2 linked regions of the Homo sapiens genome follow. The protein of the gene in region 1 interacts with the protein of each later gene in a biochemical or structural test. Each region holds a gene or a part of one and is shown on either strand. Other genes may lie near its edges.

Region 1 (3,707 bases):
TGCAGAAGTGGTTGCAAAATTTCTCCATAAGCATGATTTGGATCTTATATGTAGAGCCCATCAGGTATTGATTTTGAATTTTACATGTACACTTAAGAGCATGTGTGTGAGCACAGATTCTCCTTGTTGATTTTGGTGGGTAGGTATTGCTTATTTATACAAAGTGTTTCTGGAACACAAGATATCAGGCTCAATGGGAAACTGAAACATGGTTTTACTCACCTAATATTTGCACCTATTTATATTGAAAAAATTTTCTCTTCAAGGTGGTTGAAGATGGATATGAATTTTTTGCAAAGAGGCAGTTGGTCACTCTGTTTTCTGCGCCCAATTATTGCGGAGAGTTTGACAATGCAGGTGCCATGATGAGTGTGGATGAAACACTAATGTGTTCTTTTCAGGTAGAGCATGCTTTCAACATGATTTCCTTTTAATATGTTTACACTTTGCTGATTGAAAAATATAATTGCTACTTTTTGCCTAGTGTTCACTTATGCTGAGTAGGCTAAGTTTTTATTTTCCCTTAACCAGTGTGTATTATAGTTGAATAATGTGTGGATCCCTTGTAAAAGAAAAAATTAATTATGGCACCTTTTCCCAGTGTTGAATTATAAATTTTTGCATTGCATATTGGCTCCTTAATGCTTATGGCTCTTTTACTGTAAATCTAAAACCTTAATGACAATGTAATGTTCAGCTAAAATTAAATCACCACTTGAATGTGAAAAGTACTGAGTGCCTTGTGCTATGTGTTTACTTAGTTCTGCCCTCTAGTCTAACTTCCACAAAACTTCTGTTAATGTACCATGACATCATTTGGCCTTCAGTTGGCACAAAAGCATTATTTAGAATCTGCCTCAGCCTTTTTCTCATTTGCTTATTATGATACTTGTACAACTTCAAGCCAGCCTAGTCATAAACATAAATACAGCCACCAAATCATGTGGCACTCATCAGTTAAATGAATTAAAATAGTTTTTTACCAATTATCAGAGAGAACTTGCAGCTTTCAAAATTCCAAAGATTGTGCAAGGATCCCCTACAGGTTGGAGAAACACTTTTGTAAAGAACTTTTTCCCCTGTATCAGAAGGAGTAGCTAAAGATACTACCAGGTGTAGACTTCAGAAGATTGTCATTATACTCAGAGGCAAAATAATTTGTCCAGATAATAGATTTTATCTGTTCGTCATAGCGTTAATTACCAAATGTTTACATTCAACATAGCTTGTGTTAATATGCTAGGGGGGCTTTTACAGTTGTTGGGGCAGTTGTGAACACCATCTGAACAGAAGATCTGAATGAAATTTAAGGACTCTTAAGATTTGGGGTTGAGTATATTTCCTAAATTAACTGTCTTTTGAATCTCCAGATTTTAAAGCCTGCAGAGAAAAAGAAGCCAAATGCCACGAGACCTGTAACGCCTCCAAGGGGTATGATCACAAAGCAAGCAAAGAAATAGATGTCGTTTTGACACTGCCTAGTCGGGACTTGTAACATAGAGTATATAACCTTCATTTTTAAGACTGTAATGTGTACTGGTCAGCTTGCTCAGATAGATCTGTGTTTGTGGGGGCCCTTCCTTCCATTTTTGATTTAGTGAATGGCATTTGCTGGTTATAACAGCAAATGAAAGACTCTTCACTCCAAAAAGAAAAGTGTTTTGTTTTTTAATTCTCTGTTCCTTTTGCAAACAATTTTAATGATGGTGTTAAAGCTGTACACCCCAGGACAGTTTATCCTGTCTGAGGAGTAAGTGTACAATTGATCTTTTTTAATTCAGTACAACCCATAATCATGTAAATGCTCATTTTCTTTAGGACATAAAGAGAGCCCTAGGGTGCTCTGAATCTGTACATGTTCTTGTCATAAAATGCATACTGTTGATACAAACCACTGTGAACATTTTTTATTTGAGAATTTTGTTTCAAAGGGATTGCTTTTTCCTCTCATTGTCTTGTTATGTACAAACTAGTTTTTATAGCTATCAACATTAGGAGTAACTTTCAACCTTGCCAGCATCACTGGTATGATGTATATTTAATTAAAGCACACTTTTCCCCGACCGTATACTTAAAATGACAAAGCCATTCTTTTAAATATTTGTGACTCTTTCCTAAAGCCAAAGTTTCTGTTGAATTATGTTTTGACACACCCCTAAGTACAAGGTGGTATGGTTGTATACACATGCTGCCTTCTTGGGGATTCAAAAACAGGTTTTTGATTTTGAATAGCAATTAGTGATATAGTGCTGTTTAAGCTACTAACGATAAAAGGTAATAACATTTTATACAATTTCCATATAGTCTATTCATTAAGTAATCTTTTTACAGTTGCATCAGGCCTGAACCCGTCCATTCAGAAAGCTTCAAATTATAGAAACAATACTGTTCTATACGAGTGACCGATTATGCTTTCTTTGGCCTACATTCTTTATTCTGCGGTGAAGTTGAGGCTTATAAGTTAAAACAAAGGAACTAACTTACTGTCCACCAGTTTATACAGAACTCACAGTACCTATGACTTTTTTAAACTAAGATCTGTTAAAAAAGAAATCTGTTTCAACAGATGACCGTGTACAATACCGTGTGGTGAAAATGAATTCAGACTTATTAAATGATGAACTTGTTAAATCTTCTCAGTGTCTATTTATCAGCACAATACACACAGGAGAACTGTTGATGGCATATTGAATAGATTTTCCTGAATAAATTGCTCTGGAAACCACACGGTTGCATTTTGGTTTTGCTTCTTTCAAATAGTCTGTTTTCCAAAGATGGATTATAATACAGATACTAATACTCTTTGAGTTGTAACCTGGAGACATCTATTTGTGTAATAGAGTGATGAGGTGGAACGATCCTCCTCTACCATTTGGGGAGATGGGGATTAATCTGTGTCCATAGTTTTCTTACTGTCTGGGTTCACTTGAACTTAGTGGCGAATTTGAAAGCAGCTCACTTTGTTTTCTGAGTCAGCCACCTATATTTTCATGCACAGTTCTTTGATCTCTTCCCCCTTCCCTGGTTTATATGGAACACAGTATCATGTCATATTTTGTCACAAGTATGTATCTTAATTTCTCAAAGGTACGCTAAAAATGAGTGAAGAGCATGTCATTTGAAAAGCTTTTTTTCCTGTTACAAAGTGGTCTCCCTGAGGGCGTTGGCAGAGGACCTAGCGAGGAACTCTTTGAAGGACACAGAAGAGCACAGGGCCATGGACTCCCCTCTGCTAACAAGCCCCGGTCCTGAGGCATCTGGACCCTGCCATGCTCCCATCAAAGAGGGAAGGGGGACCTCATTACCTGCCTGCTCCACATTGACAATATCCAAACTTGTGCTGTTTCACTTTTACGTAATATTCTCCCAGACTTCTTTGACTATAGGAAGAAAACAGTGAATGATAATTGTGTCAAAGGCAAATTCTGCACATCTTTATGTCCTGAATGTTAATGAATTGATACTAGGATTTCAAAATGCTATAAAGTAAAATTGGGCTGCTCTACTAGGATTATATCATTATTGGAGTGTGGTATCAGGCTCAAGTTTTTCTTAAGGAACATTTATCAAGTACTAAGGATTATATCATTATTGGAGTGTGGTATCTGGCTCAAATTTTTCTTAAGGAACATTGGTCAAGTAGAAGACAAGATTAATCTTTGGTTTTAGGACCTGAGATCATTAGGAGAGACTCAGTTTGAAATCTG
Region 2 (3,500 bases), on another chromosome or scaffold:
ACACACAGCAGAGAGCTGAAGGGTGAGCTAGAGGGAAATAACTAGGCAAGCAGGAGGGTAGATGGGGGACATTCCAGGCAGAGGGGACAGCACACGTAAAGGCCCTGTGGCAAGTCTGAGGATCTGCAGGAAGGCCTGTGTGGCTGGGGGACAGAGAGCAAGGGATGTTTGCAGCAAATACTGGCCTGAGACTGAGTGCCAACATGGCTATGAGGTTGTGGCGCCTTTTAACAGAGCAAGTCAGGAAAGGAGGCATAGGTTTGTGCAGCTGCGGGGGCCTGGTCTGGGGCATGGTACCTGGGAGGAGCTGGGAGCTAAAGCTGGGAGTTGGGAGCAAGGGTGGGCTGGGACTTGAGATTTGCAGCTCAGAGTGCACAGAGGTAGTGTGGGAGATGGGCCGGTGCCCCAGGGCAGTGAGTATAGAGAGAACAGAGGATCCGGAACTGAGCTGTGGGGGACTGGAGGTCTGCGCTGGGGTCACCTGGAAGCTGGGAGAGAACCAGGATTGTTCAGGAAGCCACAAGTGCAGAGACTGGCGAGCAGGGCTGGGGCTGCAGAGAGGGGACAGAGAGTAATGGTGACCCTCATCTGCCCTTTTACTTCACATGTACTGTCTCACTGGAGCTTTTGTGAGATTGGGAGGCACATATCACTGCCATTTTACAGATGGGATAACTGAGGCTTGGGACATTAGTTGCATTGCGCCAAGTCAGAGTATCAGTGACTAACCGAAGCCTCCAGCCTCCCTGCGAGTGGGGTGCAGTGACAGGGAGTCTGGTGGGAGCTCTGAGGCTGAGCTCTACTTCTTTCCTCTCTGGGTTTCAGTTCTCAGGCTCAGCCAAAGAGGGTTAGTAGTTGGGGTGCAATGGACTCCACAACGGTAGGAATCCCCTGGCGACTCTGGCCCCAGTGCTAGGATGGGGGTACCCTTTGGCTCCTGCTGGCCCCCACCAACCCAGGGCCGTGCCTTTCTCTCTCAGCTGCAGAGCCTGGAGCAGGAGAAGGGGCGCTGGCGGGTGGAGAAGGCGCAGTTGGAGCAGAGTGTGGAGGAGAACAAGGAGCGCATGGAGAAACTGGAAGGCTACTGGGGTGAGGCCCAGAGCCTGTGCCAGGCTGTGGACGAGCACCTGCGGGAGACTCAGGCGCAGTACCAGGCCCTGGAGCGCAAGTACAGCAAGGCCAAGCGCCTCATCAAGGACTACCAGCAGAAGTACGTGGCTGGGGGCTGGGCGGGCTGGGCCCAGGGAGCATTGAGAGGCTTTTGGGGACAGTCCCTCCCCATCCCTCCAGCTGAGTAGGGAGGCACAGAAGTTGGAGGGCCCCATGGTGGGGACACCCGGTCCGGAATGACCAGGCATCAGAGCCAGCACAGAGCCAGACCCCCAGAGGCTTTGGGAAAACCTGGGGCCTCCTGACCTGAGAACAGGGAAGGACAGAGTTGCCCAGGTAAAGCTGAGGACCTGGGTCACCCTGGATGAAAGCCAGACCACACACCCTTACCTGCCATCTGTCCCTTGCCTGTGCCCAGGGAGATCGAGTTCCTGAAAAAGGAGACTGCACAGCGTCGGGTTCTGGAGGAGTCGGAGCTGGCCAGAAAGGAGGAGATGGACAAGCTCCTGGACAAGGTGGGCCTGGGGCGCCCTGTGGGCAGGGCCCAGTGGAGGGAGCAGCATTGAAGCCCCTACCCTGTGGGTCCTGGAGGGAGGGGATGCCATGTCCTCACCGGGGGGCGGAAGGGGCTGGGATCATGCCTGGTGTCCAGACCTGACCCCCTACCCTCCTTTGTTTTCCAGATCTCAGAACTGGAAGGAAACTTGCAAACACTGAGGAATTCCAATTCTACTTAACAGGAATCATTCCATGACTGGACAATAATTAACCCCCCTCCCATTGTCCTCCCTCCCCTGTCCTCAACACCCCACCCCTCCCCCTTCCAGCCTGGGGACAGGTGCCCCGACTCCCCCCACCCCTCCACCCCACCTCCCCCAGCTTCAGGGACCAGAGGGCTCATATCACAGGCCCCCTTAAGATGGCCTGGGCAGACAGAGGTGGCTAGAAGGGCAGCCTCTTTCTTGCCCCATGGGGCTGAGGCACAGAGGCCGAGGGCTGCCGAGGGCTGGCCTGGTGGTCGACGGACACAAGCACCTGCAGATCAAACTGCCAGACTTTACACACTCCAGCTTTTGTCTCTGGACTGGAACGGGGCTGGGGCTCTCCCAGCATCTGCCAACTGGGGGCTGCTCCCTGCCCATGGGGCACCTGGGTGGCCCCTGGGCCTCTTGACTTGAGATTCTACCTTCTCGGCCCTTCCCTCTCCCCCCATCATTGTGCCGTCTCTGTTGCATTCTGACCCTCCCGCCTGGGGGGTGGGGGCGTTGCCTCAACACCTCCCCCATCCCTGTTCCCTGTCCTGGGAGGGATAGAGTCCACCCCAGAGCCCGGAGGCTGGGCCTGGCCCTGGCCCTGCACTGATTTCTCATGTGTCCTTCGGGAAAAGGGGGAGTGAGAGTGGGAAAAAGGGAGAGTTCAGGACACCTGGTCCCCAGCTCCCCATTGCCTGGGGCAGCAGCCCTCAATTTCTCCTTGTGCCTCCCCTCTTCCAGGTGCCAAATAGCCATAACCTCGTCTTGGAACTGTTATGTGGCCTCTCTGGGGTCCAGGTTTCCTGGTCAAGCCTGGGAATGCCAGGGAGGAAAGGGGGTCTGGCTACAGCGACCCTGGTCTTAGGCAAGGGGAACATTTCTCCCTGGAGAGTCAGGTCCTATCCTGTGCTGCCCTGTCTGCCCAGCCCAGGGCGATGCCTGGAAGCCTACTGACATTGCAGGGAGTCAGCCTCGCCCCCACCCCCTACTGGTTTTCCAATGTTTTGACTGGAGGGCAAAATTTTACTACTACTCATCTTTTTGGAGACCAGGGCTGCCCTGCTGGCAGCCTGCCTTCTAAGTGAAATCGACTCTGTTTCCCCACTTTAACCCCAAATTGGGGCTTGGACCAAGGGAGGTGAGACCACCTCCCCCAGGTCCCCTCCCCTTTCAAAATCCATCTCATTTTGCCACTTCATGCCCCTGCCCTAACTGGGTTTTTGTTCATTTTTTAAAAACAGACCACCCATCCCATCCGTTTTGGCTTCTTGTCCCCTGTAAATAGACCATGACTTCGATCAGTATTTCTTGTCCCCACCCCTTCCTATCCCCAGATGTGCCCCCATCCCCTGAAGGAGCTGGCTGTCTCAGTCCTGGGCTCGCGCACTTCACCCCGGCAGATGGAGGGGGCGGAACCGGGTGGGCGGGGCCGCTTCGGGCTGCTTGGGCCAGCGGCCACCCCTGCCCAGCCGTCGGGAGGGCCGCATCTCTGTATATAATATATATATGTATGTATTGTTCCCGGTTTTGTACGGACCATGCCCTCTGTCAGGTCGTCCCCATAAAAGCAGCCCCCAGAGCCTTGCTGCCTGGTTTCTTGATTCACTGAGGTGGGGAGTGGGCAGGGATCAAGGATGC

Evidence for each region.
Region 2: the proteins of PPP1CC (region 1) and PPP1R9B form a complex in vitro, tested with the Homo sapiens proteins (2 studies listed by BioGRID).

The regions. Positions count from the first base shown.
Region 1 is NC_000012.12:110,718,829-110,722,535, reverse strand, and holds the end of PPP1CC (serine/threonine-protein phosphatase PP1-gamma catalytic subunit), read left to right. Parts: coding exon 1-64; intron 65-266; coding exon 267-401; intron 402-1,370; coding exon 1,371-1,460; 3' UTR 1,461-2,331; coding exon of another isoform or gene 2,332-2,402; 3' UTR 2,403-2,856; downstream 2,857-3,707. UniProt on the Homo sapiens protein: Protein phosphatase that associates with over 200 regulatory proteins to form highly specific holoenzymes which dephosphorylate hundreds of biological targets.
Region 2 is NC_000017.11:50,133,678-50,137,177, reverse strand, and holds the end of PPP1R9B (neurabin-2), read left to right. Parts: intron 1-980; coding exon 981-1,210; intron 1,211-1,528; coding exon 1,529-1,625; intron 1,626-1,793; coding exon 1,794-1,847; 3' UTR 1,848-3,441; downstream 3,442-3,500. UniProt on the Homo sapiens protein: Seems to act as a scaffold protein in multiple signaling pathways. Modulates excitatory synaptic transmission and dendritic spine morphology. Binds to actin filaments (F-actin) and shows cross-linking activity. Binds along the sides of the F-actin.